Regions from separate parts of the Homo sapiens genome. Here regions 2, 3, 4, 5, 6 and 7 are each linked to region 1. Evidence: fine-mapped expression QTL. A gene starts in region 1. Each other region holds a variant in brackets. All regions are shown on one strand. Distances are between the middles of the regions.

Region 1 (4,373 bases):
TGTCTAAATTGGTGTACACAAAAAGCTCGGGGGTTAGTGACTCATCCAAGGTTATTAAGCTGTTAAATGGTTCCACCAATACTAGATCTAATTTTGTGACTCCAAATTTCATGCTCTTTTTCACTACTCCAGATAATCTCCGGTGAACATCATTGTCCATTAGGGTAGTTAAGACATTCTAGCTGCCAAATAGATTCAGTCCTTTTAATTGCCTCGGACAATATATTTTTTATTTTGCAGAAAATAAATATTACCCATATGGCAGTCATCCATAAACACCTTCCAAGTTTATCCCAAACATCTGTGTTTTAAATTTTTTCTCCCAACAGATGTATTCATTTGCATTTTCCCAGATGAATCACTCTTTTTTTGTTGTTGTTGTTATTTTTGACTGTATTTCTCACCTCTCAAGACCCTTTTGTATTATCAAGCCCACTGCTTAAGCTAATACCATCTCCCAATTTGGGGACTTCCCCTTGATTCCTGTGTGCCCTTCCTGTGGGTCATTAATGCAATGTTATTTAAGACTAGGATTTGGCTGGGCGCAGTGGCTCACGCCTGTAATCCCAGCACTGTGGGAGGCCGAGCCGGGAGGATCACCTGAGGTCAGGAGTTCAAGACCAGCCTGACCAACATGGTGAAACCACGTCTCTACTAAAAATACAAAATTAGCCGGGCATAGTCACATGCCTGTAATCCCAGCTACTGGGTAGCCTGAGGCAGGAGAATCGCTTGAACCCGGGAGGCGGAGGCGGAGTTTGCAGTGAGCCAAGATTTCACAACTGCACTCCAGTCTGGGCCACAAGAGCGAAAACCCGTCTCAAAAAAAAAAAAAAGACTAGGATTTGACATAAGGCCTGAGGGGTATTCTTTTGTTTTGTTTTGCCTTGTTTTCAAGAGGCCAAAATCTTCACAGTTGAAAATTTCTGTTGAACCACAGAGATTTGAACCAACTCAGTTTAGAAAGCCTGGGGATTTGAACAACGGTATGGATCGGAAATCTCTTCATCTGTCAGTTTTCATCATTCTAGGCAGTAAAATAGATTTCCCTTTAGGAGCTTTTCACCGTTTGGGGTTCTCCAGCAGTGGGATGTGGGGAATCAACCCTTCTTCGTCTCCACCCAAACATTAGGTGGGAGCAAGGGGTGGGAAGTAGAGAAAGTGGATAGAGGTCTCCAGTGGATATGGGATCTTTGTGTAGACCAGCACAGTCCTCAGAAATCTCATGCAAGCAACATAGGTACTGTTATATTTTCTAGTGGCCACCTTTTAAAAAGTAAACAGGTGAGGCCGGGCGCGGTGGCTCACGCCTGTAATCCCAGCACTTTGGGAGGCCCAGGCGGGCGGATCACGAGGTCAAGAGATGGAGACCATCCTGGTCGACACGGTGAAACCCCGTCTCTACTAAAAATACAAAAATTAGCTGGGCATGGTGACGCGCGACTGTAGTCCTAGCTACTGGGGAGGCCGAGGCAGGAGAATCACTTGAACCCTGGAGGTGGAGGTTGCCACGCTCCACTACACTCCAGCCTGGCGACAGAGTGAGACTCCGTCTCAAAAAAAAGAAAGTAAACAGGTGAAATTAATTTTAATAATATATTTTGTTTAACCCAACGTATCCAAAATACTATCATTTGAAAGTGTAATGAATATAAAAATATTCATGAGATATTTTTCATTCTCATATCCATACTGTCTTGGACTCTAATGTGTATTTTACACTTACAGCACAATTAATTTGGGACTAGCTACATTTCAGCTCAACAATAGCCAATAGCATATGGGATAGCGCAAATAAACTCTGCGTCTCTGTTGCTTCTTTGGGTCTCGGAGACCTCAACCCTTTCTTCAGATTGCAAACCTTCTTGCCTTCAAGCCTCGGCTCCAACACCAGTCCGGCAGAGGAACCCAGTCTAATGAGGTACGCTCCCTTCCTGCCATTCTCTATTCCATTAACCTGTTTCGTGGTAAACGTAGGACTGATCCTCCAAAATTACCTTATTAATTAGCTTACATATTTATTATCTATCTGTCCCACCAGAATGCAGGTTTCCGGAAGGCAGGGATTTAAAAAAATCTGTTTTGTTCTATGTGATTTTCCCATACCAAGCACCGTGCCCGGCACAAGCTGGGATCCCAGTACACATCTCGGGACGGAAGAACCGTGTTTCCCTAGAACCCAGTCAGAGGGCAGCTTAGCAATGTGTCACAGGTGGGGCGCCCGCGTTCCGGGCGGACGCACTGGCTCCCCGGCCGGCGTGGGTGTGGGGCGAGTGGGTGTGTGCGGGGTGTGCGCGGTAGAGCGCGCCAGCGAGCCCGGAGCGCGGAGCTGGGAGGAGCAGCGAGCGCCGCGCAGAACCCGCAGCGCCGGCCTGGCAGGGCAGCTCGGAGGTGGGTGGGCCGCGCCGCCAGCCCGCTTGCAGGGTCCCCATTGGCCGCCTGCCGGCCGCCCTCCGCCCAAAAGGCGGCAAGGAGCCGAGAGGCTGCTTCGGAGTGTGAGGAGGACAGCCGGACCGAGCCAACGCCGGGGACTTTGTTCCCTCCGCGGAGGGGACTCGGCAACTCGCAGCGGCAGGGTCTGGGGCCGGCGCCTGGGAGGGATCTGCGCCCCCCACTCACTCCCTAGCTGTGTTCCCGCCGCCGCCCCGGCTAGTCTCCGGCGCTGGCGCCTATGGTCGGCCTCCGACAGCGCTCCGGAGGGACCGGGGGAGCTCCCAGGCGCCCGGGTGAGTAGCCAGGCGCGGCTCCCCGGTCCCCCCGACCCCCGGCGCCAGCTTTTGCTTTCCCAGCCAGGGCGCGGTGGGGTTTGTCCGGGCAGTGCCTCGAGCAACTGGGAAGGCCAAGGCGGAGGGAAACTTGGCTTCGGGGAGAAGTGCGATCGCAGCCGGGAGGCTTCCCCAGCCCCGCGGGCCGGGTGAGAACAGGTGGCGCCGGCCCGACCAGGCGCTTTGTGTCGGGGCGCGAGGATCTGGAGCGAACTGCTGCGCCTCGGTGGGCCGCTCCCTTCCCTCCCTTGCTCCCCCGGGCGGCCGCACGCCGGGTCGGCCGGGTAACGGAGAGGGAGTCGCCAGGAATGTGGCTCTGGGGACTGCCTCGCTCGGGGAAGGGGAGAGGGTGGCCACGGTGTTAGGAGAGGCGCGGGAGCCGAGAGGTGGCGCGGGGGTGCCACCGTTGCCGCAGGCTGGAGAGAGATTGCTCCCAGTGAGGCGCGTACCGTCTGGGCGAGGGCTTCATTCTTCCGCGGCGTCCCTGGAGGTGGGAAAGCTGGGTGGGCATGTGTGCAGAGAAAGGGGAGGCGGGGAGGCCAGTCACTTCCGGAGCCGGTTCTGATCCCAACAGACCGCCCAGCGTTTGGGGACGCCGACCTCGGGGTGCCGTGGTGCCCGGCCCCACGCGCGCGCGGGGCTGAGGGGTCGGGGGCGTCCCTGGCCGCCCAGCTTTAACAAAGGGTGCTCCTCTCCACCCCGCGAGGAGGGGCAGCTCCGGAGACCCGGTCTTCAGCGAGCGGGGTCTTAGCGCCGGGGAGGTCTACTTCCTTTTGGGGTTGCCATTTTACTATTATTATTGCCTTTTTTTTTTCTTCAAAAGGACTGGAGACTGATGCATGAGGGGGCTACGGAGGCGCAGGAGCGGTGGTGATGGTCTGGGAAGCGGAGCTGAAGTGCCCTGGGCTTTGGTGAGGCGTGACAGTTTATCATGACCGTGTTCAGGCAGGAAAACGTGGATGATTACTACGACACCGGCGAGGAACTTGGCAGGTAAAGGGGGTACCAGAAGCGTACCCTCCTGGATTGTGGAAATGCATAACGATGGGGCCATTGGGTGGTAAACAAATGCAGTTTGAATCAGGCGTCTCCCTCGCCCTTTCTGGAGATGCGCAAATCATAGAGAAAAGAGTTACTAACCCAGCGGTAAACCGCCTGATCCAAGGGCCTGGGGGTGGAGGAGAGGCAGCAGTTCAGGGCTAGATTATGATGCACAGTATATTGATCCAGTCCCCTGGACAAAATCAGATTTAATTGTCCGTGCTAACTCTTGTCAGCCCTTGCCCTTCTGTGACAACAGGACAAACACTAAGATTATAATTGCAATTGGAGTTAGCTTTTATGTGTGATTTAAACGGAGGGTACAAACTAATTAATAGGTTTTAAAAATCTTAGTACTTTACCCTCTATCTAAATTTTCAGTGTAATTTGAGCAAGTATTGGTAGGTGGTAAATGGAGACTTGCCAGATGTTGACATTGGGCTTGGATTTTGAAACTTCTTCCAACCAGGAATTTAATTACCTGGTTGGTGTTGGTGGTTGCTTTGGTTTCATTTACAATGTTAAATTTTTAACAAATCAATGAGAGTCTAATATGGCTATCTGGAT
Region 2 (4,373 bases), 24 kb after region 1:
GGGGTGGGAGGGAAGCCATGGGATGCTGAGAGAATAGGGCCGAGAGGACATACCTGCTCTCCAGCTTGGCCTTTGATCCAGACACTAGGGACGAGGCTGTCACTGTGGGTGCCTTTGTTAGTGTTTGTGTGTTTGAGTAGTCTGAAATGCTGTGACTTTTTTTTGTTGTTGTTAATAAAGATAAGGAAACAAACAGAAAAAAGGAAATTGGAGCTTCCAAAAGGAAGAAGGAAGTCTTAATATAGAATTGACTTCTTCCCAGGTAAGTTTTAATTGCTTCTCATGCTTGTAGAAAGGTGTATCATGTGTTCTAATAGGTTAGGATTTAATTATGGCTTAAAATTAGTTCTATAGGAAGAGCTTGGAGTTGCACCTAGGGAGAAGAAGCAGAGGGTTCCAGAATTGTGTAAACGGATTGATGGAAAAATAGGCTTCTGGTGCTGAGGGTTCAGGAGCCTTGCCAGCATCACAACAAGGTGTGAATTAGCCTCCTCGCACTCTGGGAGGAAGTGGAGGAACTGCTGGGGTGTGAGGCTGTGAAAGGACCTTGGAGAGCCAAGTCCTCCCTGTTCAGACAGGGACAGGCACAGCTGGAGACAGCAGTTTTCAGCTCTGTGGAACTCTTGTTCTCTGGGTTGCACTTCTTCCTGTGATAATAAAGAGGTTGAAGACAGGAAGACAGGTGCTTGAAAGCCGGAAGACAAGGGGAAAGTTGTTTGAAGCAGGTGTTTAAAAATCCGCCACTTTGGGGGGATGAATTAGGATATCGGTAACAATTTTATAGCCTATATGGTTTCTTTTTGACCCTCGAAGATAGGTGGGAAGTGGTTTTCTATACTTCTTTTAAAAACTGGGAAACCAGAGCTTAAAGAAGTTAAGCTTGAGGCAGCAGAGTTCAATGCACTGGTGAATTGAAATGTTTGTGTGTGTATACATACATACCTGTGTGCGTACATACATAGGTATATATACATACTCAGTATAAATATACATGCACATATATCTATACATGTACTGATACAAAGGGTATATAATACAATTTACAACTAATAACAAACTATGTGCACTCTTTATTATAAATTCCATTCAGCCAATGTAGGCTCACAGAATGCTTTTATTGATTTTTACTGTGGCCAACCTATGACTGACAATGGTTTGACAGAGTTGCATTCCAATTCACTAGTTTTTTACCTAGTAAATTTATTACCATTAAATCTAATATGTGATCTACTGTTAGACTATTTCTCACCTTGTACAAATTATGTTCCTTAAGCTGAGCTTCATTTTGGCTTCAGCACTGCTGATTGCAATAGTGCTAGCTATGTTTTAAGCTTTTGGTGTTGTTGCAGGGGTTGAAGCATTGTTGGATTCTGTATCACCTAAGGGTGTCTGTGTTTAGCAACCAGGTCATGAAATTCCTGAAAAATGAACAGTTGTCTCTTGTGAGCCAGCACAGGCAGGCTGGAGCACATCACTAGCTCCATTGTCAAGGTCTGGAAAGGCAGGTGCTTGTCTGTCTTATTCAGTCTTTAGCCCCAGACCCAGGGAGGTGCTGAATGTATGATTAGAGATTCAGTGAATATTGGTGAGATGGATGAATGAGGTTTCAAAGCTGGGACCAGGAGCCAGTCCATGGGACTCCAGTTCTTATCCCATGAGGACAAGGTCCAGGGTGGGCATTGAAGAATCACAGGAAAGGAGGGGCACCAGAGACCGTCTCCACTGTCAGAACTCAGCTGCCATGTCCTGCCTTCCGCTAGGATGTCAGCACTGGGGCACTGTGGTACAAAGAAGAGGAGAAGGATGACATCTCATTTAGTGTACTTTTTTTCCAGCTTTATCCAATCTTTTGGCAATTTTATTCCCCATCATTTAGGAAAGAGAAGACCTTCTTATCTAGCAGTTTGATGACTT[A/T]TGGTAGTTGCTTTGGTTTGAATATTTATCCCCTCAAAACTCATGTTCAAACTTAATCTCCAGTATGGCAGTGTTGAGAGGTGAGGCTTTTAAGAGGTGATTGGGAAGGCAGAGCCTTCATGAATGGATTAATTCATACGTGGGTTAGTGGATGAAAGGGCTAATGGATTAATGCGTTATCGTGGGAGTGCCACTGGTGGCTTTATAAGAGGAAGAGAGGCCCAAGCATATTTAGTGAGCATTTTCTTGCCCTCTTGCCATGCGATGCCCTCTGCCACGTTTTGATGCAGCAAGAAGATGCTCACCAGGTGCCAGCGCCATGCTCTTAGACTTCCCAGCCTCCAGGACCACGAGCTGAATAAATTGCTTTTATTTATAAATTGCCCATTCTGCAACAGAAAATGGACTAAGACAGTAGTCACCAACAATACTTAACTAGAATGGCCAGTTATGGAGAACAAGAGTTATATTTTTTTTCTCAGACAGGTCCCTTTACATCTTTTAAAATGAAATATGTAATACATTCACACAGTTCGAAAGTCAAAGACAGTATCTTGCCCTCCAGTGACTAGTTCCTTCTAGTGAGTCTTGAGATCATTCCATATATATTCTATGTGTATTTAAGACAATAAACATAAATTTTTTCATGTTTTTACTGAAATCGTAGCATGTTATACACATTGTTCTGCCTTTGGCTTTTTTGTTTTTTCACCTCATAGCATAACTTGAAAATCATTCCATTACTACATAGGAAGACATGCCTTTTTCTTCTCTATGATTTACTGTCATTTATTTAACCCTTTCTGTCTGTGAACTTCTAGGATTCTTTTCTAATTTTTCTATTATAAGCAATTCTGCAATGATTGCTGATGTACAAAATGTTGAAGCTATCTGTAGGTAAATTCCTAGAAGTGGAATTGCTGGATGAAAGAGAACATGCATCTGTCATTCTTGTATGTGTTACCAAGTTACTCTTCATAGACCGTAAGTCAGTTTTCAGCCCAACTACAAGAGAAAGCTGGCTGGCTTCTTTCGCTGTCTCACAGCTGCTTGATTCTTGCTACTTTGATAAGTGTAGTTTCATCAATTTTTAAGTATGAATAAGTGTAAGCATGTTTTCAAGTATGTTTAAGAACTATTTGTCTCTGCTTTGAACTTTCTATTCATACTCTTTGCCCATTTTTCTCTACGTTTGTAGACTTTTATTAATTTGTAGGAGCTCTTTATCTATTAAATAGCTTTATGTTCATGTTATGATTTGCACATCTTTTCTCTAGGTTGTCATTTGTCTTTTGGCATTGTTTCTGGTACTTTTCTCCCCATGATTTTTTTTTGTGTTGTGATAAAATGTGAAACTTGTCATTTTAACTATTTTTAAGTGCACATTCAGTGGCGTTAAGTCCATTCACATTGGTTGTGCAGCCATCACCACTATCCATCTCCAGAAGTCTTTCACCGTCCCAGACAGCTGTATTTTTTAAAATAGTCGGATTTATCAAATTCGTTTAATCTTTTATGGGTTTTGTATCACAGTTAGAAAGGCCCTTACCGCTCTGAGTTTATTTGTTTTGAGACAGGGTCTCATTCTGTTGCCCAGGCTGGAGTGCAGTGGCACAATCATGGCTCACTGCAGCCTCGACCTCCTGGGCTTAAAAGATCTTTCCACCTCAGCCTCCTGAGTAGCTGGGACCATAGACACGAGCCACAACACCCAACTGATTTTTTAAAAATTTATTGTAGAGAAGAGGTTTTGCCATGTTGCTGAGGCTGGTCTCAAACTCTTGGGCTCCAGCGATCTGCCTACCTTGACCTCCCAAAGTGTTGGGATTACAGATGTGAGCCACCGTGCCCAGCCCACTTTAAATTCATTTTTAAAATATTCTCTCATAATTTCTTCTAGTACTTTGATGGCTTATTATGTATGTTTAAGTCTGTGATTTGCCTGGAATTTATTTTCGTGTGAAGTGTGAAGTATGGCTCCAGGCGTAGTTTTTCCAGAGCCCCTCAGTTACCATTTGCTCATCAAAACATGGTTTGAGGGCTGGCTGGATTCAACCAGGGAGATTTCCTGCACTGTTGGTAGCTGTAGGGAATCAGCAAAGCTGCTGTTTCCAGGAGCTCTTGTGAGCTGGGGAGTGAAGAGCTTCAGAAATGAAGCTTGAGCTAGACTGATGAAATCCCACTCTAGGAAAATACAAGCCTTACGGTGTTTATGTTTGCTATATTCAGAATCACAGGCATGCTAGTGAGTGCACTGTCTAAACATGTTGAAAGATGGTCTGCAGTATCTCTACTCAGCGAGGTGGATGAAACAGGTACAGCCCATGAGAGGCAAGTTAGTGTCTTGGATAAGGCGTTCCTGGTGGATGAGCCATTTGTGCCCCGATAGAGGTTCTTACAGAGGAGGGGCTGGAGTCCACTGATGCTCTGGGCCTCTCCCTGGGGGAAGGGGTGCCTGT
Region 3 (4,373 bases), 110 kb after region 1:
ACACACAAAGGCTCCCAGAGGCCCCCAGGTGGGCCTGGCTGCTGGCACTTTGGCTCAGCTTGTGACTCTGAGCTCCCAAGGCCAGGGCCAGCCTGCCTGAGCAGTTATAAGTGGCAACACACCCTCTGGGTGGGGACAGGCAGCAAAAGGAGGAAGGGAGTGAGGATTTAGCAATAGTTGTATACATCGTTAGCACAGGACAGCCCTGTCATGGGCTTTTTTTTTTTTGTCCTATGAGGGCTCTTTTCTCTCTGGCAGTCATGAGAGGTAGGTACTTGGGGGGTAATACTGCATCACTGTGAGACTGGGGCAACAGTGTGCTGATGAAAATAACTCCAGTTGTCGCAGATTAATAATAGCTAACAGTTACTGAAGACTCCCTATGGTCAGGTGCTGTCCTAAACACTTCATGCGCTCATTTCATCCTACTCCCTCCAAGACAGGCACTTATTATGCCCACTCTACAGATAAGAAAACTGAGGCCTAGAGTGGCTAAGTCCTAAATAAACCTTGGGTTACACAGCTGGCTTCTAGCCGTTACACAATTCTGTTGAACTATAATGCAGAACACTTTGTCTAACTCCTCGGGTTCTCAGGGTTATAGATTCAGGCGTCAGCTGCAGCATATGTGCATTGTGCATGGACTACATGAAGTAGGTCTGCACCCAGGGCCTCAGGAGATGTGAAGATGAGCCTGGCAGCCCTTTGTCCCCCAGGCATTGGCAGTCTGGGAGGGTGGGAAAGGCAAGAATGGGCAGAAAACAGCAGGTGCCCCTGAGGGGTATGGGGTGCTCTTTCGACTCAGGGATATGGCAGATTGGAGGAAAGGGAATAGATTGTTAGGGGTGTCAGGGAAGAATAGGGAACGGTATCTTAAAAGAGGTGACATTGCAGTAGGTCTAGAACAAGTTTCCCAAGCTCATTCTAGACCCTCATTTTACTCTCTGCAGTCAGGGTTAGCCAGTACCCCAGCATCCACACAGAGCCTTCCTACCCACCAGCTCTTATCCCCTCCTCACCAGCCAGCACTTTTCGTATGGGGACCCTGCAGTGTGAGTGAGGGATCCATTGTCAGGTGACAGAGTCCATTCCCCAGGTTTTGCTGTAAACGAAGGCACCACAGTTCCCTCGGGCATGAGCACACATGACATTCAGCACCTGCCTTCATCCTGCCATCAGGGCTAACCTGCCTTTACTTACCATCTTCCCATAAATAAAATGGAGAAACTTCCAATATAGAACATTTGGAGGTGAAAACGCACGTGGAACAGTTTTTGTATCTAGGCTTGCATTGAAATTCTCTGTGACTCTCCTGCCAGAAGGATTTTCTTTTTTCTTTTTTTTTTCTTTTTCCCCCTGAGACGGAGTTTTGCTCTGTCACCCAGGCTGGAGTGCAGTGGCACAATCTCGGCTCACTGCAAGCTCCACCTCCCAGGTTCAAGCAATTCTCCTGCCTCAGCCTCCTGAGTAGCTGAGATTACAGGCACGCGCCACCACACCTGGCTAATTTTTGTATTTTTAGTAGAGACGGGGTTTCACCATGTTGGCCAGGCTGGTCTCGAACTCCTGACCTCATGATCCACCCACCTCGGCCTCCCAAAGCGGTTTTTCTTTCTCTGTCTCTCTGTTTCTCTCTCTCTCTCTCTCTCTCTCTCAGCTTTTTAGTTTTGAATTTTAAAGCACCATGATTGAAACTACTGAGTGTGCCTTGAGTTGGAAGTCTCTGAGACAAGTTGCTTTGGCCATGTGTGAGGTATGAATGGGCCCAGCCTCTGGAACTGTCAGCTTGGTTGTTGGTTGGCTGGGCTGGGCTGGGCCTCCCTATCCTGGGTCCTTTTGAATCTGCCTGGTGGGGACACAATAACATCTTTGTAAGGAGGGGCCTGGACTCTAAAGGAAGCAGCTGACTGTGTTTTGAATTCAAGCTCTTTTCCCTCTTCTCTCCGTATGCCCCATCTCTGCCACCCTCCGCCCCACAATAGAGGGAAGGTTTTTACTCCTCAGAGAAATTGGATTTTGGTTGTAATGAAGTCATTACATAGACCCCGTAATTGTTTAAGGTAGCGAGTTTACAGGCAGTCGGTGCTGGCATTCCAGTGTGATTTATTCTTCAGCTTCTCAGCTATCCTGCTGCAGGG[A/G]CAAAGCGGGTATTAACAACCTGTCATGCAAAAAATTTGACACGGCTATAAAGATAATCCTTCTCTCTGTGTTCCTTCTTCACTGGCCTCCTACTGCTAAAGTAAATGAGTAACGTTTTAAAGTATCCATTCTTTAACATCAAAATATTATCCTTAATTTGCTTTTCTCTCTGGCTTTTGTCTTCGTGTGAGGATAAAGCCAGCTAAAAATACCTGTGATAATTCTTTACATAGCAGTTATCCAGCAGGTACCAAGAAACATACAGATCCTGTGATGGGTGAATCGACCCTTCCTTGGGCACTAGGGAAGAACGAAGGGCACCAGCATGGGGCCGGGAGGGTCTTTCCGTTGTGTTCCGCTGACTATCAGTGGGGCCTGTGTACCTCTCACCGTCTCACGCACTTACTGCCTACCCCTTATTATTTTGAGTCAAGTTCTATTATTACAGTCTTTAATATATGGGAAAGGGAATCTGGTTATTTGCTGTGATGTTTAAGGTGCTTTCCTCTGCAAGAAGTAGAAAACCCATCAAACTGACTTGAGCCATAAAAGGAATTTATTGGCTTATGTCGCTGAAACATCACAGGCAGATGGTTTCAGGCCGGGGCTGATCCAGTGACTCCATGGTGTCACTGCAGACCTGGTTTCTTTCCTTTTACTGGCTCTGCTTCTGCAGTGGTTGTCTTCAAACTAAGAGTGGCTCTCCTCATGGTCCCAAGACAGTTGGCAGCGGCTTTGAGGGGGGGGTTCTGTCACACTCAAAAGAGAAAAGAGTCTCAGAAAGCCTGTGTCTCTGCATCCTCTGAAGGGTCTTACTTGGCATTGTGGTCAGGAGAATGGAGTGGACTGATTGGCTCAGCCTAGGTCACATGATCCGTATTTACAGTTGGGGGTGGAATCGGCTTCCCCAAAACCACAAAGATCCCTGGGTAGAAATACCTTGAGACGGGAGGAGAGGGGAGATAATGCTGGAGAAGTGACCAACAAATATTTGGTACATATGACTTATCAGTCGCTTAATTATAAACAAAATAATAGACCTTTTTCTGTTCTGTGTATTTAAATTGGTTAATATTGGTGCTAGAAATATGTTGTTGAAGGCAGGACTTCATATATATTTTTTTTTACCGATTCCCTGGTCTCAATCCCTCGTTTTTCAGGCTCAGAGACTAGACGTGCAGGAAAAGAGTTTGCTGGAAGTGAGGTCAGATCACAGAGCTCCTTGCTGCTGTCCCAGGACCTGAAGTGGGAGGGAAGGAGGAGAGGACAGAAATGGAGACATGATCACTCTTTCAATAAAATATACTTTAAAAGTTTATATTCCTTGCAGCATTATTTATAAAGAAACAGGCTTAGTGTAAATGAATGATGATAAGAAACATCCCTACCTAATTTGTTACTTTCCACAATTGGAACTTTCCTATTCACAGTTCTCTTGTCCCCCTCTGCACCATGCCACATCCTCACTCAAATCCTGTTTTTTTTATGAACGATAAAGAATCCTCCATCTTCTCTTTTCAGTGGACAGTTTGCGGTTGTGAAGAAATGCCGTGAGAAAAGCACCGGCCTCCAGTATGCCGCCAAATTCATCAAGAAAAGGAGGACTAAGTCCAGCCGGCGGGGTGTGAGCCGCGAGGACATCGAGCGGGAGGTCAGCATCCTGAAGGAGATCCAGCACCCCAATGTCATCACCCTGCACGAGGTCTATGAGAACAAGACGGACGTCATCCTGATCTTGGAACTGTGAGTGCCGCCTGGGCCAGGCTGGGGAGAGGGTGTGGTGGGCGTCAGCTGGCATCTTCGTTCCAGCTGGACCACGCCACAGCGAGCCCGAGAGAGGGATCAGGAATTGGTTCTGCTGTATGAGGTGTGTGAGAACAATGCCGTGCTGCCTGACCTGAAACCCAGCTGCAGGGATCTAGAACAAACTCTAAAGAGCAACTCCCATCACTGTGGTTCCACCCAGTTTGCAAGAGGGTCTCCCAGTCTTGCGGTTCACCACTTTCTGGGGTTCATCTTTGCCGTGAGCACATCTGTTTTCTGAGTTTCCTGTTAAGCTTCAAGCATATGTCCTTCTCCCCTCTCACTCTATTCCTTTCCTCTCTCTGTTTGTTTTTCTGCCTTTCTTCCTCTGTTCTCTTTATCTCTTCCCCCATCTCTTCCCCCTCCATCTTAAATGCACGAACCCCATTTTTAACTGTTAATTCCATCAACACTAATTATATGAATGGGTA
Region 4 (4,373 bases), 120 kb after region 1:
ACCATAGTATCTCAGAACATGACCTTTTTGGATATGAGATTGTTTTAGATGTAATTAGTTAAGATGAGGTCATACTGGAATAGCACAGAGAACCTAATCTGATAGGACTGGTGTCCTTATAAGAAGGCCCTGTGGAGACAGAGGAATGGAGTGAAGCATCTATACGCCAAGGAACCTGCCAGAAACTAGGACAGAGGCATGGAGCAGATTCATCCTCAGATCCCTTAGAAGGACCATCCCTACCAACGTACTGAGTTAGGACTGCCAGCCCCCAAAACTATGTGATAGCAGGTTGTTGTTTTAAACCACCCCATGTGTGGTCCTTTGTTAGGGCAGGCCTAGGAAACTAACACAGAGGCACCAGTTAACAGAAACTAGATTTCCTGGACTGGGAGCCTACTCGCATGTTGATCTAAAATTCTATAAGCAAGTTAGAAACAAAACAAAACATAATGCCTAATTATGGTAATGCCATCAGGTAACTGCAAAATGACGCAATACATACATCTCACTCCCTGCAGATAGCCTGAGCAGAGAAGGATTGGAGCGGGGGTGGGGGTTTGGAGTCTAACATAAGATAAGGAAGAAATGGACATCACCAGGTTCTGGCCTGCTTCAGGATGGTCACCTGAGTAGCTCTGGATCACATGTCTGAAAGGTTACCATGTTAAGAATTATAAAGTAAAAGTGCTAAGATGGCCAAGTAAGTATTGGCATGGTGGATTGTTCCAGAGAAATCAAGCCAGTTTGGTTCTCCAATCCTAAATGTCTCCCCTTATTTGTTCTGCTTCCATTTCGAAGCACATCTTTAAAACAGAGTAACCCCATTTAGCTTTCTCTCTCTTTCTTTGTGACAGGAAATTCCATTTAATTAGTGCAGTCTGCTATGGTTGTAGCCAAGTGCAGGGCGTGGAGTGAATAATGCATTTTTTATATTTAAAAAGGTAAATTTTGCTGATTTTTTTAATCATGGTAAAACAACATACAGTTTACCATCTTAACCATTTTTAAGTGCACAGTACAGCAGTGTTAATTCTATGCATATTGTTGTGCAACAGATTTCTAGAACCTTTTCGTCTTGCAAAACTGAAATGCTGTGCCTATTGAACAACTCCTTTTTAGCTCTGTGTTTTACTTTGGCTAAGTTAATAATTTCTGGAATTCAGTTTGCCCATCACAAACAACTGCTAAGTTGTATTCAAACATTTGTGCAATATTAGGTCACTTTATGTAGGATCACGGTTCAGTTGGCTCACTCTCTCATAACCAAACTGAGATGCAAAATAATCAGAATACAAATACAACTTTGTTTTTCATTGTATGTCAGCGTGGTGCATGTATGTAGACGAACACATGGTGCCTTGGTCAGCAAGATCAGAATCGCAAGAGCCTTTGAAGAAACACATGCAGTGATTAAAGTGATAGTTTCAAAGGATCTTAAAAGTGGCAAAAATTGTACAGAGCTGAATGTGGTGGTCGGGACTTAGGGAAGCTGATAAATGGGGTGTGTGGCACAGAGCCCTTCAGTCTCCCTGTCTCTGCTTCTCTCTGGGCGCTCACGAACCACAATAGCACACACTCAGACTTCCTCAATGCGTTCTTTTGCTGCCACATTTGTTCTCTCTTTTCTGAGCTCGAGCCAGCTCTTTTGACTTTTTGAACTTTTGTCTTTATTCACAAAGGTAATTTCAAGAGCTCTTGTGGGTTCCACTTCTGGCATCCCGCTCCTCAGATACCTACTATTAGGCAAGAGCAGAGAAGTAAAGTGCATTTGGCAGCAGTCTCTGCCTTTCAAAGCAGAGCTAAATCATGTAAAATAGGTTATTTTCCATCCAGGCATTCTCTTGAGAAAGAAAACCCTGTGTGTGTCTTCCCCCATACTCTCACTTCTTGCCAGTTCAGTTGAAAAGTGTTCCCTTAATGTTATTAAATAGGTATTTTCACTCACTGAAGTGGATTATTTGATTTCTGCACGGTCTTAAGAAAAAGTGAGACAATAGGAGTCTTACAAACAAACCCTATGTGGTATCTGTGAGCTCATAGATCTGTAGTTTTTAGGATATAGTCATAACTTTAGTATCTGCCATGATGTTCTCCATGCTGAATACATGAGCTATAAGTAATATTTGGAATCTCTGTTTATCTCCAAGAAAGACCCATGATCGTGGTTAAAGTTTGGGAAACTGAGGCAATGCTGCTTAGTCACAGCTCCAGGCAGGTGACTATTCTTAGACTCCTTCCCAGGGACTAGACTCTTCTGCATCACTCTCTGGGGTGGTGCAGGTCCTGCAAATTGTTCATACTTCCTCTTAGAAACTCTCCCTGATCTCATATCTTCTTCTTCCTGTTTTGGCCAACTGCTTCCCCAACCTGCACATCAAGC[G/A]GGTGTAATGGAAGAGAACTTTGTGGAATTGCGGCTTTAGCTGTCCCCTCACAGGTACTGGTTTTGCCTCTTGCCCAGTTCCCTCTCTTCGCTGCTCCAGTATGTTCCCCATCCTTGTCGTGGGCTCCCCGGCACTGTGGCTGCCGCCATCCTGGCCAGGCAGCTGCCTCTCTCCACCCAGAGCCAAGTCCCTTCCAGGCCCTGGGACTGCCTGTTTGGTGGTCAGGCTCCACTCAAACCTTCCATTTGGCTTTCCCCCACTCTGGTCATACGGAGTCCACATCCAGGTCTTGCTGTGCCCAGAATTCTGGGATGGTGACTGGAGTGAGGGTTGGAGACAGGCAGCCGGGGATGGTTCGTCTCCAGCTGGTACTCCAAGACGGAGAGTGCCTAGGCCACAGGTCATGAGAGCATTGCTTTATTAGATCAGTATCTGCAAGCAGGTCAGTGACAGTCTTCCCAAGACGTCCTTGAGCCCCTCAGAGCATCCCCTTCTGCCTCACGTCCTTGCAAAATGTGGTTTAACAAGCAAATACTTCCAAGAACAACCTCATACTGCTTTTTCCTCCTAATTTGTATTTCCAGATAACCAAGTATTACCTCACCTTCTTCTATTTAACAACTCTTTATTTCCCTGTGTGTAACTTGTTTTTAATATTGTCAAAATTACTGCAATGCAAATGAGGAACATCAGGGATCCAGCGGGACCGCTGGGAATATGTGCTTGTTCCGTGTTGAAATGTCAGTTTCATTTCCAGCCTCTGAATGAAGGCAGTGACCGAGCATGGCTACTGTGAGATGCAAACACTATTCAATTAACAGAGTTACATAGAAATGGGCTCAAGGACCTGGTCTTCCCTGGACGACAGAAGTGTCATTGACGTTTCCCCTAATATTTTGATAGGAAAATTCAAGTAGAGTTGATTATTTCAAAAATGTAGGGTAGAACGTTCACTACTTTTAAGGCACTTGCACTTAGGCATGGGTCTTCCCAAACTGCCTGAAGAGAGGATATGGTTAAACAACTGAGTGGCTTTCCTTGGAGGAAAAGGGAAACTGCCCTTCACTTTACCTTTCTGAGTCAGCCACAGTGGGCGCCTCCCTGAAATGATCTCATTTAATCCTTGCGTGCAACTCTAGGAGAGTGGTGTTACCACCCTGCAGGTAAGGAACGCTGTGCCCCCTCTGTCCACATATAGGTCACAGGAGCCGGTAGAGAGATGCTCATTCTCAGACAGTAGCCTCTTGGAGAGAGAATTCTTTTGTTTGAGTTTTCTAAGCCCTAGGATTCTGCTAAGCCACTGTAGGATTTTGCCTGCAAGGCCCCATTGTCTGTGGGCTGGTTGGCCAGCTTTGCTCTTCCTTCTTGAGAGTGACTTTCACATTCCAGTGGTTCTGGAGACACATTTGCTCCTCCTCCATTTGAAAGCAGTGATTTAGAAGCTTTTGAAAGCCAACCTGGCCTCCCAGGGCCCCTCACCTTTCTGCTTCCTTCTCTAGCGTGGCTGCATTGTTCTTGCCCCTCATTTCTTAGCATTTCCATGAAGTTGGGGGTGGGCAGAAGATGTTCTAGTTTTCCAGTGGGATTGCTGAAGCCTAGGAGTGGGATGGCTTCATGGGGGCTCTGGTGTGATAGTGGCATGTGCCTATATGCCCCTTGCATATGTTTCTTTGAGGGCAAGACTACGTCCTACTCTGGCACCCACAGCACTGAAGACTGTGCTTGGCCCAATACATGGATGTCAAGTCCAGATAGAGCAGGAAGAACAGCAGGATCTGAAAAAGAGTCACGTGTGGCTCAAGAACCAGTTAGTTGACCAGGGAGAAGGACAGTTTTGGGGGGAAACGTTGATTTACTTGCATGAGCTTCAGAAAACTCTTGACTGAGTTTCCTAAAGAGCAAAGTACCCCATCCTCTTGAGTATCAGGGTTTGGGTCAGTTTGGGTCCTACCAGGAAACAGACGGCCCACACAAACAGGGAAATTTGAG
Region 5 (4,373 bases), 59 kb after region 1:
TTAGCTGAATAGCAATAATTATGGGATTGTGCAATACTGGAAGAAGCAGTAAAAATAAAATGTAATACTAAAAAAAAAAAAAGTCTTTACTTCATCTAGGAAATTCAGTTTAAAGAATTTTTACCTCCGGACATAACAGTGACTATGCTGGAACTCTGTCTTTGACTCAAGCCAGAAGATGGATGGGACCACCCTTAGGAGCCTTCCACAGGAAGGCCCTCTCCACAGTAGGACTTAGGGCGCTCATGTAGATCCCTCGGCAGTAATGCGCTAGTTGCTCCTATAGTCAGGAGGCATCTAGGGAGATCGCTGATCTCCATGGCAACCTGGACCCAAATGAGCAAAGTGCCATCAGCTGGCCTCGGCCTGACTGCTCTGGCGGGAGGGAGGAAGCTGATGCTGTCTCCCACCCAGGCCGTGTAGCCATTTCCCCCACCCCCACCGGAGGTCTGAGAGTGTCAGGGCTTCTGCCCTTGGCTTCAGCCAGTTCTCCTGGAGGTCATTAAAGGGAAGCCCTTCTGGTGGCAAGTTCTCTGCCACAATCTACAGTGAGAATCTAATGATGGTATCAGTTGTAGAGGCCCCTTGATCTCTGGAGAGGGTTCTTAGTGCCAAGGAACTTTCTAGAACCATGGAGGAACCCTGCAGGGACCTCTGAAGAGTCCTGAGCAAAGAAGTGGGGAAAGCTGTGTGGGTGTGCACCAGGGTCTCATCACCCTGCCCTCAAGGGCAGCCTCAGTATTATGACTTAAGGACTTGGGGGTTTACATAACATCCCTTTTTGTCAGCAAAGGAAGTTCCTTATTTCTAAACCTCATGGTCCCAGAAAACCCAGTTCCTGATCTAGCTGTCCCGTTAGGGCATTTCCATAATACAGCACGTTCTTAAGCAGACATTAAGTCAGACAATTAGGTCCCAGCTAAGCCTTGTCTTGACCTCTTAAGCAACATATCTGCCCTCCCTTTTGCCTTCTCTCTTTTCCTTCTCTGTCACAGACACAAGGACTAGATGAGAATGACACCCTGGGGCTATCTGATATACTTCCTCAAGAAGTATTAGTAACACAAACAACAACAGAAAAAACAAAGTGAAATTTATTTATCATGAAGCACTTTATTTTATTTAGTTATTTTTTTTTTTTTTGAGATGGAGTTTCGCTCTTGTTACCCAGGCTGGAGTGCAATGGTGTGATCTCGGCTCACTGCAACCTCTGCCTCCCGGGTTCAAGCAATTTTCCTGCCTCAGCCTCCCGAGTAGCTGGGATTACAGGCATGCGCCACCACGCCCAGCTAATTTTGTATTTTTAGTAGAGACAGGGTTTCTCCATGTTGGTCAGGCTGGTCTCGAACTCCCGACCTCAGGTGATCTGCCTGCCTTGGCCTCCCAAAGTGCTGGGATTACAGGCGTAAGCCACTGCAGCCAGAAGCACTTTAAAGCTTATCGTTAAGAACAAATATGCAGTCATGCAAGAGCACACTGTTAACAAATTACCGGCTAACTAAAAGCTAGGCGAGTTCCATATCAATATGATTAAACAATTGCATGGGAAAATTATTATTTAGAGGAATGGAAGTAGTCACTAGTACGTGTTGTCAGTAGCTTCTGTTTTATTCCTAAAAAGACGAATGAGAAAATGAGGTATTATGAAGGAAGAAGCAAGAGTAAATGCCACCATGGTAATTACTGCCCGGGGCATATGAAGAACTGTTTTTTTGTATTCTAATCTCCGTCACCGAAACTCATCAGTGATGCAGGACCCAAAAATAGAAGGACATTTTGGGTGGACATGTAGTTAATAATGACTTATGCAGCCCAGCACCTGTGTGGGCTGGCATTGTTCTAAGTGCTTTTTCCTGTGTTACCTCATTTAATCTTCACAACAGCGCTGTGAGGTTGGTACAAGTATTATGTTGATTTTATGGAGGAGGAAACAGGTGCAGAGAGGCAAGGTACTTTGCCCAAGCTTCCTTTGTCAAAGCTCACAGAGCTGGGGAGGGTGCCCACGTGTGTGTACCTGTACCCACTGTGCATGCTGCCCGTCACGGGCAAAGGGGCTTCCTTTTGCTGTCTTTGAATCATGGATTTATTCAGTGTCATGGGAAGCCATGCATGGGTTAGTATTCTGGCCACATCAGTGAATGCTACAGCCTGGCCCCATCATGCTAATGTCAGGAGGAGTGCGGGGGATTGGCAGAGCATGGGGAGGATGGCGGTCTCCTGCTGAAACTCTGTGGAGTAGCCTCAGCTACCCTTTCACAGAGCAGGGTTTGGTCTCTGAAAGGTGAGGTCTTTCACTTGTGATCATGGTACAAGGCTGTGGTACTTCTCGCTCCAGGAGCTCGCTGGAGAACATATCGAGGCCTGTGTGGCTCCTCAGCCCATACCCTCAGGAGAAGGAATGCTCTCCTCAGGTTTGGAATTGCTTTTCTTGGTCCTTGTTTCTAGTAGGGAGTGAGAATAGACATGAGTTGTGCCTGCTGGGCAGAGCCTTTGCAGGCCAGGCCTCCTGGGCTGCCTTGGGCGTGTTCCTTGAAGAGCCAGTCCTGCAGTTGTGGGTGGGAGAGGAGCTTCTCTGAGATGTGTTATCAGGAACCTTGGCGGAGGTGGGCAGTTGACCTTCGGCTTTCCCCTTGGCCTCTAGGGATTCATATCTCATAAAGAACAGAAAAGAGGAAGGCAGCCTGGCCCTTCCCCTCACCCTTCCCTCTTGGCGGTGTTGC[G/A]GGAAGGGAGGAGCAACTCTTCCTCAACATCCTCGAAGCTCAGTGTCTGGCATTGTAAGGCCAGTGGTTTTCAAACCTCTGGGCTCAGAACCTTTGTTCAAAGCAAGTGTTACCTGGCAGCCACACATCCATCCAGGCAGCCCCATGAGGAATGCTCAGATCCATCTGAGAAGAGTCTGGAAACCCACATCTTCATTTCCCACCATGGCCCTGTCAGGGGAGACCCTTTGTCCTGTACCTTCCTGTCGTGTTCTTTCTACGTTTCACCCACTGCCTTCCTCGTCCTTCCAAATTAGATTATTAATCTCATGAAGAAAATACAGCTTTCTTCCTGTGATTCAAAACATCTTTTGTGAGCTCTAAAACCATGCCGATTAAGGAATTATGAATTTAAAATAATATTAAATGGTCAGTAGCTTTTATTGACAAATGATCTTGGGACAAAGCCATTAGATTTTTTTTCTATCTCTTACAGAACCCCCCTCCTGTTAAAACATTACTCATTGAGAAGTGATCCATTAAAAGAAAAATGTGTTGGATTTTAAAAAATACCTAATCCTTGGCAGGGCGCGGTAGCTTATGCTTATAATCACAGCACTTTGGGAGGCCAAGGTGGGTGGATCACTTGAGGTCAGGAGTTCGAGAACAGCCTGGCCAACATGGTGAAACCTCGTCTTTACTAAAATTACATAAATTAGCTCGGTGTGGTGGCATGCACCTGTAGTCCCAGCTACTTGAGAGGCTGAGGCTTGAGAATCACCTGAACCTGGGAGGCGGAGGTTGCAGTGAGCTGAGATGATGACATTGCACTCCAGCCTGGGTGACAGAGTGAGACTCCGTCTGAAGACAAACAAACAAAAAACAAAAACCGAATCCTTTAGCCAGGCGTGTCTCTTGTTGGATAAGTCAGTTTGGAATCTTTTGGATGTTTTCCTTCTTTTACTTGCTCAGCCATAATAAATCTTTCATTTTAATTTTGATCAGCAGCATTGTGAGGTCCTGCCCAGTGTGGTAATGGGCAGTTAGCTTGTCACAGTCCTGTCATCTTGCCAGCCCCTTGAGAGCTGCCAGAAGCTTGTGGTCTGTCTGGTTTCACATGGTGGTCATGGACTCTCTTAGGGACTCACATGTTACTGCACAGTGGGTATGCATCTTGGCCTGTCAGCACCTCTCCCTGAAGCATCCCAGGAGCTATTTACCAAAATGGATCATGCTCTTTTGTCAAGAGCAGGCCACTGGACTGCATTGCACCCCTGAGGATATACCCACAGATCAACGGGACAGAATAAATAAAGCAAGATGAAAAAGAATGAAGGGATCTAGTCGAATAAGCTTTGCAACTAAAAATCTTCCATGAATACAGGATCTCAGAATCACTTGATAATATGCTCCACATACATAAGTACACATATGCACACACACACAGCCGTGTGAGTACAGATACACAAGCTGTAAGGTGGTCATTGCACACCAACGTCCCTTTCGACGAAAACGAACAATTCCTCGATACTAGCTGGTCTCTTGGTTTCTGCTGTTTGTGACTTGTCATTGCAGGGAAGGGCTGTGATGGAGGGAGTTTTTGTTGACTTGGTAGTTCCTGTCTGCAGACCCCTTCATTGCTTCATTGGATTCCTTGGACAGCCTGCTATAGCC
Region 6 (4,373 bases), 53 kb before region 1:
TCTTGGTCATGGTTCTTTACCTGGTGAGGTGACCCAAACCATCATTCCTACAGAGTCTGGGCCATTTTATAGTCCTGCTTAGATTGGGTTCTTGTAATTTCCAGTTGACCTTAATCATGGACGTGGTAATACTAAGAGATGCCCTAAGGGATCTTCTGTATTCTAGACATACTCTTCCTTACCTCTATTGTGGTGTAGTAGTAGAATTTTCCCTTGGTAGTCAAGATCAACATGCCAGCCAACACCATAATTCCCTTCCTGGCCTGATGACCCAGAGGCATGAAGAACCCAAAGCAGTCGGGTGGCAGTCTTAACTTCCAGTTCAACGGACTCATTGTTGTGTCTCCTGAAGGAAGCATTCTTTTCTCTGGAACTAAGGCCTCTAGGCCAGCAAGGCACAAAGTCATGGGAACAGGAAGCAAATATTTTGCTAGTGGGTCACTAGGGGTGATGGTAAGTGGTGCCACTTCCACTTCTGCCCCTTGATTCCTAGACCCATGAATGCTTGCTATGGGAGAAAGAGAACCATATATTAGATGCTGATTCAGAGCATATACAGCATTCTAGAAAACCTTGCCCCAGCCCTGCAAAGTATTGTTACCCATCCGGCACTGTAACTGTAGCTTCACAAGGCCATTCATAGTTCTACTGGCCAAATGCTTCAGGATGGTGGGGAACATGATAGGACCAGTGAATTTCATGAGTCTGAGCCCATTGTCACACTTCTTTGATTTTGAAGTGAGTTTCTTGGTCAGAACAATGTTGTGCTGAATACCATGGTGGTGGATAAGATGTTCTGTAAGTCCACAGATGGTAGTTTTGGCAGAAACCTTGTTAGCAAGAAAGGTAAATCCAAATCCAGAGTAAGTGTTTATTCCAGTAATGACAAAACATTGCCCTTTCCATGATGGAAATGCTCCAGCGTAATCAACCTGCCACCAGGTAGCTGGCTGATCACCCCAGGGAATGGTGCCATATTGGGGCTCAGTATTGGTCTCTGCTGCCAGGTCAGCTTTGAGGAGTGGAAGTCCATGTCTCTCAGCCCATACATAACCTCCATCTCTGCCACTATGGCCATTGTGTTCACGAGCCAATTAAGCTATTGCAGGGGGGTCTGGTGAAGGATGCTTACTGGTATTTACAGAATGGGTCATCCTATTCACTTGATTATTAAAGCCCTCCTCTGCTGAGGTCACCGTTTGGTGAGCATTCAGATGGGACACAAATATCTTTGCATCCTTCGCCCACTCAGAAAGCTCTATCCACATACCTCTTCTCCCATTTTCTTTTGCTACAAATTTTCTAATAATGTTCTCTCCAATTCCCTCACCATCTGGCCAAACCATTGGCTACAGCCCATGAATCAGTGTGTAATCATATATCTGGTCATTTCTCCTTTCAAGCAAAGTGAACCGCCTGCAGTTCTGCCCATTGTGAAGATTTTCTTTCATTATTGTCTTTAAGGATGTCCTAGAAGAAAGCCAAAGTGCTACAGCTCTTTCCTTTTGCACAATTTAGGTGCCTGTTTATTGTGCAGACTCCTCCATAAGGCCCTAGTCTTCTTTTCCTCTGTCAACTGAGCCTAGGGAACTCAAGTACCAATAGTACTGCTGAATTATATAGCCTAAAATTAACCATCACAGGCCAGGCACGGTGGCTCATGCCAGTAATCCCAGCACTTTGGGAGGCTAAGGCGGGCGGATCACCTGAGGTTGGAAGTTCAAGACCAGCCTGACCAACATGGAGAAACCCTGTCTCTACTAAAAATACAAAATTAGCCGGGTGTGGTGGCCCATGCCTGTAATCCCAACTACTCGGGAGGCTGAGGCAGGAGAATTGCTTGAACCCGGGAGGTGGAGGTTGCAGAGAGCCAAGATCACACCATTGTACTTCAGCCTGGACAACAAGAGCAAAACTTGGTCTCAAAAAAAAAAAAATTAACAATCACACAGCCCAAATTCCTTTTCCTTTGTGTTATCACAATTTATTACCCTTTGTTAAAATGTCATAACCACTTCTT[T/G]GGGGGATTTTTATTTCTTTTCTGTAAAGCCTGCCCTCCTCCATGTGCATGAAAAATAAACCTTTCCTCTTGTTTATTGGTCTTTGTCAGTTTAATATAAAGGACCCAGCGACAAACTTGAGGGTAGAGGGAAAGTTTTTTTCTTTCCTGCACAAGATAGCCACCCAAGTTAGAATTAGGGTTCAAGGAAAAATCTGATTCAGCAAAGTACAGAATCCCCTCAGGCAGCTCCAACAAACACCCCCATTATCAGAGGAGGAGCTCCTCAGTTACACAGCTCTGTGATTCAGTTACTGATGCAGAATTCCAGAATTCCATCTTCTAGCAGGCATGGCTTCCCTGGTCAGGCAAATGGTGGTTGTTGGGGGGAGGCATTCTCAAACTAACTCTCCATTTTTTATTTTTGGGACTAGTCTGAAGCATTAAAACAAAAACTATTCCACATTAATCAGAAATGTCCAAAAACTGTAGTCTCAACACTGAATGCCCATCAGGATGAACTGGGGTGCTTTTTCAAAATGCATATGATTACAATACAACCTTGGAGATTATAATGGAGTCCAGATATATGAATAGCCATGTGCCATATAATGACATTTTGAGCAGTGATAGACTGCATATATGATGGTAGTCCTATAAAATTATAATGGGGCTGCCCTATAATTTTTTTGGTCTTTTATACCATATTTTTACTGTTCCTTTTCTCTGTTTATGTATGTTTAGCCACACAAATACTTACTATTGTGTCACAATTGCCTACAATGTTCAATATAGTCCCATGTTACACAGGTTTGTAATGCAGGTGTGTAGCAGGCTATACCATCTAGGTTTGTGTAAGTACATTCCATGATGTTCACACAATGACAAAATTGCCTAACGACGCATTTCTCAGAACCTATGTTTGTCATTAAGCCACATGTGACGGTATTTTGGAAAGAGGTATGTTTTGATTCTCAAGTAAAGCCAGGGTTAAAACTCACTGACTTGGAAACTGGAGCAGCTTGAAGACTGGAGGTGAGGAGGCTCTGTTAGATCCAGCTCTGAAAAATCAATGGAGAGCCGAGGGGAGGCCAGCAAGTCTGTGGGACCCTGGGGAGGAGGTGACATCCAGTGTGGCCTTCCATGTGCAAAGTGTAGTTGCCTCATAATGTCTCTTCTCCTTCAGATTACCGCAAATACCTGAAATTATGCTATTAAAAGTTCATCCATACAGTAACCCTTTCATAACAAATATTAAACCCTCATAGACTCTAACATGTTAGCTTCTTCCCACTCCTCCACCAAAAAAAATTTAAGAGCTGGGAATCATAGACAGGCCAGGAAACTTCTGATAATAGAGCAGGGAGAGACATGAAAGACTGCAGGGGGGTGGGATGGTCTGTGGCAGAGACCACCAGCTGCCTCTGCAATATTCATTTTCCCTTCTTCCTCCCTAACGAACTGAATGACACCTCAGGCAGCCACAGCCTCGTTAAGACTACATTTCCCAGAAGGCCATGCTCCTCAGGGTGGCCAATGAGATGTCAATAGAAGTGTTGTTTCCACGCTACTTCCTTAAAGGGGACTGACAGTTGAGAAGGGTACTCCTCTGCTCTTCCACTTTCCCTTCTAGATTCCACAGGGAAATTCGGAGTTAGTGGGTCAAGCACCAGATGCCATCTGCAACCATGAGAAGACTGTAGGAAGGTTGTGGAAGAGAAGGAATAACGAAGCCCAGCTTGCTGATCAGAACTTCAGCTGCCTGATCTCAGCCCTAGGCTCTCTGCCTCCAGATCTTTCCTATACCAAAGGAAAAACAACCTCTATTTTGTTTAAATTGCATAATGGGGTTTCCAGCTATGTGCAACCAAGATTAATTCTGGAGGAAGAATCTGGAGTATAGCCCTATGCCCAAAGAGGTCATTTTCAGGAGAGACTCTCAAGAGGAAGGCTCTGAAATGTCTTTATCTGTGATATGGTTTGGCTGTGTCCCCACCCAAATCTCATCTTGAATTGTAACTCCCACAATTCCCACCTGTCATGAAAGGAACCCGGTGGGAGATGATTGAATTATGGGGGGAGGTCTTTCCTGCGCTGTTCTCGTGATAGTGAATGAGTCTCAGGAGATATGATGGTTTTAAAAAGAGGAGTTCCCCTTCCCAAGTCTCTCTCTTCACCTGCTGCCATTCACTTAAGATGTGACTTGCTCCTCCTTGCCTTCCGCCATGATTGTAAGGCCTCCCCAGCCATGTGGAACTGTAAGTCCATTAAACCTCTTTCTTTTGTAAATTGCCTGGTCTCGGGCATGTCTTTACAAGCAGTGTGAAAACGGACTAATACAATGTGTTAAAAAACAAAAAAATTAAAACTGCAG
Region 7 (4,373 bases), 47 kb after region 1:
TGGCTTACACTCAGTGACTTCCGGAAGGCTCACCAAACCCTCTGAGGTAGGAAAGATCATTCCCATTTTAAGGATGAAGAAGCTGTGGCTGAGTGGCTCAGTTACCTAAAGACAAACGGCCAGTGAGAAGGGGAAACTCAAGTCTGTCTGAGTCCGAGATTAATGCCTTTGCCATTGCCCAGAGATCTGTCTGGCTTTGGAGTCAATATGGAACCCCTCACTGGGCCTTCAGCAATGGGATGCCCACATGCATGCCTCACACTCCCCAGGACAGAGTTCATGGACATGCATGAAATGGCATCACGATCATAAATAGATGTTCTGGTAACTTGGCTCATAGGTAGCATGTCTTTTTACCATTAATTAGCGTACTATAGACTGCATGGGTGACATTAGAAAACAAATTTTTATTGCTTTTGCAATGAAGTTTGGGGACATTTTATAAGAATTATTTTAATAAGTAGGGATTTAAAATATGGGACATGTTGTATAGAGCAAGTTAGAGAATGTTAAAATAAAAGAACATATAAAAATGCTACTTAAAGTTTCACATTTATGTGCAAAACAACATGTAATTCTTGGTCGGGGCTGTGATAGTTCTGCTTAAGAATGTCTAAAACAGATGATCTGATAAGAAAATTGCTCTTACCACAGTAGAGGAGAAAAGGCAAGAAGGAGACCTTCACACAAAAACAAAATTATAATAGCCTCCTTAATGGGCCTATGTCTGAGTTTCAGTGCTTATCACTTACAAATGAACACTTTTCATAGACATAATTTCCATTGCCTAATAATAGTTGAATATGACTATGAATCATTTTGAGTGCAGTTTCTTTAAAATACATTGTTAATAAATGTTCTCTGAAGAGGTAGATAGGTGGATTCTTATGTAGTTAGTAAAAACAACACAATCAGCCAAAATGACTCAGGATTATTTTTTCATTTCATGGAACCTTCTGCAAATTAATATTTGTCCTTATCTGAGGTTTTTCTAAATAGTTGCTTTATTAAGCATTGCATTGTTTGGCAGTACAGTTTGTGAGCTGGATAAGGTAATAAAAACTTGGGAAAAATGTAAAAGACTCACTTTTTAAATATCTACATTAAATGCATTATCTTTGCTATGTTTGAGTGATCTCTTATGGTTCTGTAAGATGGACCATTTTGTTGCATCCTCAAAAAGTGTAAGAGAAGAGGGTTTTGTTTTTTCTTTTTTGTTTTTGTAGTCTTGTGTGTTTGGATTTTGTTTATTATAGTATTATGCTATAGTTTTAAGGATTGAGGACTCAGAAGATTTCATGTGGCCTTAATTAGCAGTCTGTCATATTTAAAAACAAACATGTTGAAATAATAAAGGTAGAAATTGTAAATATATAATCCTCTGGAAGGCAGGGATTCAATCTATGAAATTATTTCAGTTAACGTTTCAGAAGAGGAACACACATGAATAAGTATATAAATATGTTAGCTTAACTTTAACAAATTATACAAGCAACATAATTCATTATCTAAATTTTAGAAAAATGAGAAATCACCCATCACTGCACTAACTCAAATCTCTGTCATGAGTTTTAGTTAATAAGTGTTTTCTGACAATGACAAATTTTCATACATGAATAAGTATATAAATATGTTAGCTTAACTTTTACAAATTGTACAAGCAACATAATTCATTATCTAAATTTTAGAAACATGAGAAAAATCACCCATAACTCCACTCACTCAAATCTCTGTCATGAGTTTCAGTTAATAAATGCTTTTTGACAATGACAAATTTTCATTTTTAGATATTGCATGGATGAACAGGGAAAAATGTTATAGATATGGTGAAGAATATATAGTACATGAGAATATATGTGAGTGTGTATGTGTGTATGCATGCATACATACACACTTGTGTACATTAATGTATGTACACGTAAATATGCATATAAGTATACACATACACCAGAAAATTTTTCTAATGTTCCTTGCAAACACAATATGCAGCTTTCTGAAAATTATTATTTTTGTGATATTTTTAGTGGCTGTAACATTTATTTTTGGTAGCTGGCTTTGGGTGGTCCCTACAGTCCTTTTTCTCGGGCTCTTACTGGTGAGATGGATTATGCATGTAAGACTTCAAACTGGGAACAAGGGACAGCTGGAAAACGATCATTTTAAAAGGCATGTTTAAGACGGACATAAAGCTAATTTTCCTACGAGTACCCAAAATGCAGGAAGAAAGACATTTTGCTAGAGGATGAAATTGAACAGTGAAGATTTTAATTTGGTCCCATTCCCTACCCCAGCAAGGTGAGGTAGGGACACAGCTCTGCTTCCATGCACCTTTGCAGCCCAGTCCCCACCCTCTCACAGACAAGGCCACTCTGGACCTGAGGACAGGCCCATCTTCAGTACTGTTGGTGGTTGTCCCCACACAATCTAGGTTACTTTCGGAATTTGATGGATGGCTTTTCAAATTTGCCTTCCTATCTGGAAGATTATCATC[A/G]GCTATCCCTGCACTTTGCAGCAAGTACAAAACTCCTGAAGAGCAGAGGCTGTCAGACCAGCTGCCAAAGTGCTTAACACCTTTTATTCAGAAAATCTGAGGCCTCCACTTGACTGATCTCCCCAATTCTCCTTGCAAACCAGGCTCCCGGGTGCAGGGTTAGGAAGTGCGTAATGAGCTTTAGAAAGGGTTCCTGAACCAACAGCTAAACTGTTGTTAATCTCAGCTCTGGCAGTTACTTGGGATGAAGAGATCGTAATGGCTGCTTTAATTAAAATACACATAATACTAGAGGATCAGTAGACCACAAGCAAGAACTCTAAGTAATTCATTAGTTTCAATTTTAGGCGAACATGGAAGGTACTAGAAGAAAATAGGCAAACTAGACAGACATCAGTCAGAATGCTTAGGCTTGCCTCGGCTGGTGAGCCTCGGTGAGGCATTTCAGCTTTAAAAAAAATTTTTTTTTGAGATGGAGTTTTGCTCTTGTCACCCAGGCTGGAGTGCAATAGCGGGATCTTGGCTCACTGCAACCTCTGCCTCCCGGGTTCCAGCGATTCTCCTGTCCAGCCTCCCAAGTAGCTGGGATTACAGGCATGCACCACCACACCTGGCTAATTTTGTATTTTTAGTAGAGAAGGGGTTTCACCATGTTGGTCAGGCTGGTCTCGAACTCCTGACCTCAGGTGATCCACCCGCCTCAGCCTCCCAAAGTGCTGGGATTACAGGTGTGAGCCACCACACCTGGCCACATTTCAGCCTTAAAATAAAGGGGTTCATCTGATTGTCTCATCAGTTCCATAAGATGCTATATTTCAGTGATTGCTCATGATTCTGTAAGACCATTTTGTTGCATCCTCAGAAAGTGTAAAAGAAGAGGGTTTGTTTTTTGTTTTTGTTTTTGCAGTACAGATTCTCAGTACTTCCCATAGCATAGAGGGTTGAGTCATAGAGTCCAGCCAGCTCCTTGGCTGGGAAGTTGATTTTCAGTTAAATAAACTTGAGCTTTCCTGTGGTGAGATTGGGTGGTGGTGGAGCAAAACCATTTTAAAATGTAGGTTTTATTCAGATATGGTGAAGCTTACAGATCTGGGAGATGACCGTCAATGAAAAGATCTCACAGTTCCCAAGAGGAGGAGCATCCCATGTGATGCAAGGCCCCAAGAAGCAGCAGGGTCCGTCAGGAGGCAGTGGGAGTGAGGGGAAAACGAGAGCAAGAGCCTCTACTGTGGTTTCTGCAGAAAGGAATGGACAGGATTTAGGGCTGGCTAGTTTGGGGAATTTCAGCAGGCTCTGGGAGGTAGATACTGTCCCTGGTTGCCTGGCATCTGACCCTTGGTTGGTTAAGGCAGAATTGTGGCCCATAGGAGGTAGGGGTGGGTGGTCTGAGCTCTGAATTGGTTGGGTCTGCATAGGAAAGATGGGCAGGTGAGTTTACAGTTTCTAGGAATCCACTAGTTCTGGGAGGGGCAGTGCCTCCAGGGTCAACAAGGCCTCAATGCTAAAGCATCAAACATGCAGAAAACAGAGATGTGGGATCAATCCAGAGACAGCATGTTGGCTTTGGGTGACAAGACGAATGAGCCTTTCTCTGTCTTTCCCCATCCTCTCTCTACCCAGCTCTCTTTTCTCTCTTGTATTCCGTTCTCCCTCCTTTCCATCTCATCTCTTTGTTTTCCCTACCTGTTCTTTTAACAGAGGACTCCGATGACGTTAGAAGAGGCTGCACTGCCTAGAGCAATCTGCATTCCATATTAGCTTTATAAAGAAAAAAAAAATCAGCCTGGTACAGTGACTCATGCCTGTAGTCCCAGCACTTTGGGAGGCTGAGGTGGGTGGATCTCTTGAGTTCAGGAGTTCAAAATCTGCCTGGGCCATATGG

Which allele goes with the higher level. Positions count from the first base shown, and alleles are read on the strand shown. Sizes are in standard deviations (SD) of each study's normalised expression. Not every link is listed here.
With allele G in place of A in region 7, the expression in monocytes after interferon gamma of the gene that starts at base 2,486 in region 1 is lower (moderate effect, 0.48 SD a copy in Fairfax 2014).

Evidence for each region.
Region 2: its variant is fine-mapped to the expression of DAPK1 in whole blood (INTERVAL, PIP 0.92).
Region 3: its variant is fine-mapped to the expression of DAPK1 in testis (GTEx, PIP above 0.99).
Region 4: its variant is fine-mapped to the expression of DAPK1 in whole blood (TOPMed, PIP above 0.99).
Region 5: its variant is fine-mapped to the expression of DAPK1 in whole blood (TOPMed, PIP above 0.99).
Region 6: its variant is fine-mapped to the expression of DAPK1 in stomach (GTEx, PIP above 0.99).
Region 7: its variant is fine-mapped to the expression of DAPK1 in monocytes after interferon gamma (Fairfax 2014, PIP 0.95).

The regions. Positions count from the first base shown.
Region 1 is chr9:87,495,382-87,499,754 of GRCh38, forward strand. DAPK1 (death associated protein kinase 1) reads left to right here and starts at 2,486. Exons shown (of 26, transcript NM_004938.4): 1 at 2,486-2,726; 2 at 3,589-3,758. The coding sequence starts at 3,697. RefSeq lists silencers at 2,135-2,194, 2,215-2,564, 2,935-3,124, 3,335-3,444 and an enhancer at 2,835-3,592.
Region 2 is chr9:87,519,831-87,524,203 of GRCh38, forward strand. The region is part of intron 2 of DAPK1 (death associated protein kinase 1); the gene reads left to right. Among named protein-coding and RNA genes, the nearest start is that of DAPK1, 24 kb to the left of the region's middle. The variant A/T (reference allele first, on the strand shown) is at 1,915.
Region 3 is chr9:87,601,294-87,605,666 of GRCh38, forward strand. DAPK1 (death associated protein kinase 1) reads left to right here. Exons shown (of 26, transcript NM_004938.4): 3 at 3,661-3,882. Among named protein-coding and RNA genes, the nearest start is that of DAPK1-IT1, 50 kb to the left of the region's middle. RefSeq lists enhancers at 4,075-4,124, 4,175-4,234. The variant A/G (reference allele first, on the strand shown) is at 2,139.
Region 4 is chr9:87,612,244-87,616,616 of GRCh38, forward strand. All of the region lies in intron 3 of DAPK1 (death associated protein kinase 1), which reads left to right. Among named protein-coding and RNA genes, the nearest start is that of DAPK1-IT1, 61 kb to the left of the region's middle. The variant G/A (reference allele first, on the strand shown) is at 2,384.
Region 5 is chr9:87,554,378-87,558,750 of GRCh38, forward strand. The region is part of intron 2 of DAPK1 (death associated protein kinase 1); the gene reads left to right. DAPK1-IT1 (DAPK1 intronic transcript 1) reads left to right here. Exons shown (of 2, transcript NR_146781.1): 2 at 1-82. Among named protein-coding and RNA genes, the nearest start is that of DAPK1-IT1, 3.1 kb to the left of the region's middle. RefSeq lists an enhancer at 1,457-1,626. The variant G/A (reference allele first, on the strand shown) is at 2,721.
Region 6 is chr9:87,442,308-87,446,680 of GRCh38, forward strand. No RefSeq gene overlaps it. Among named protein-coding and RNA genes, the nearest start is that of DAPK1, 53 kb to the right of the region's middle. The variant T/G (reference allele first, on the strand shown) is at 2,021.
Region 7 is chr9:87,542,604-87,546,976 of GRCh38, forward strand. The region is part of intron 2 of DAPK1 (death associated protein kinase 1); the gene reads left to right. Among named protein-coding and RNA genes, the nearest start is that of DAPK1-IT1, 8.7 kb to the right of the region's middle. The variant A/G (reference allele first, on the strand shown) is at 2,492.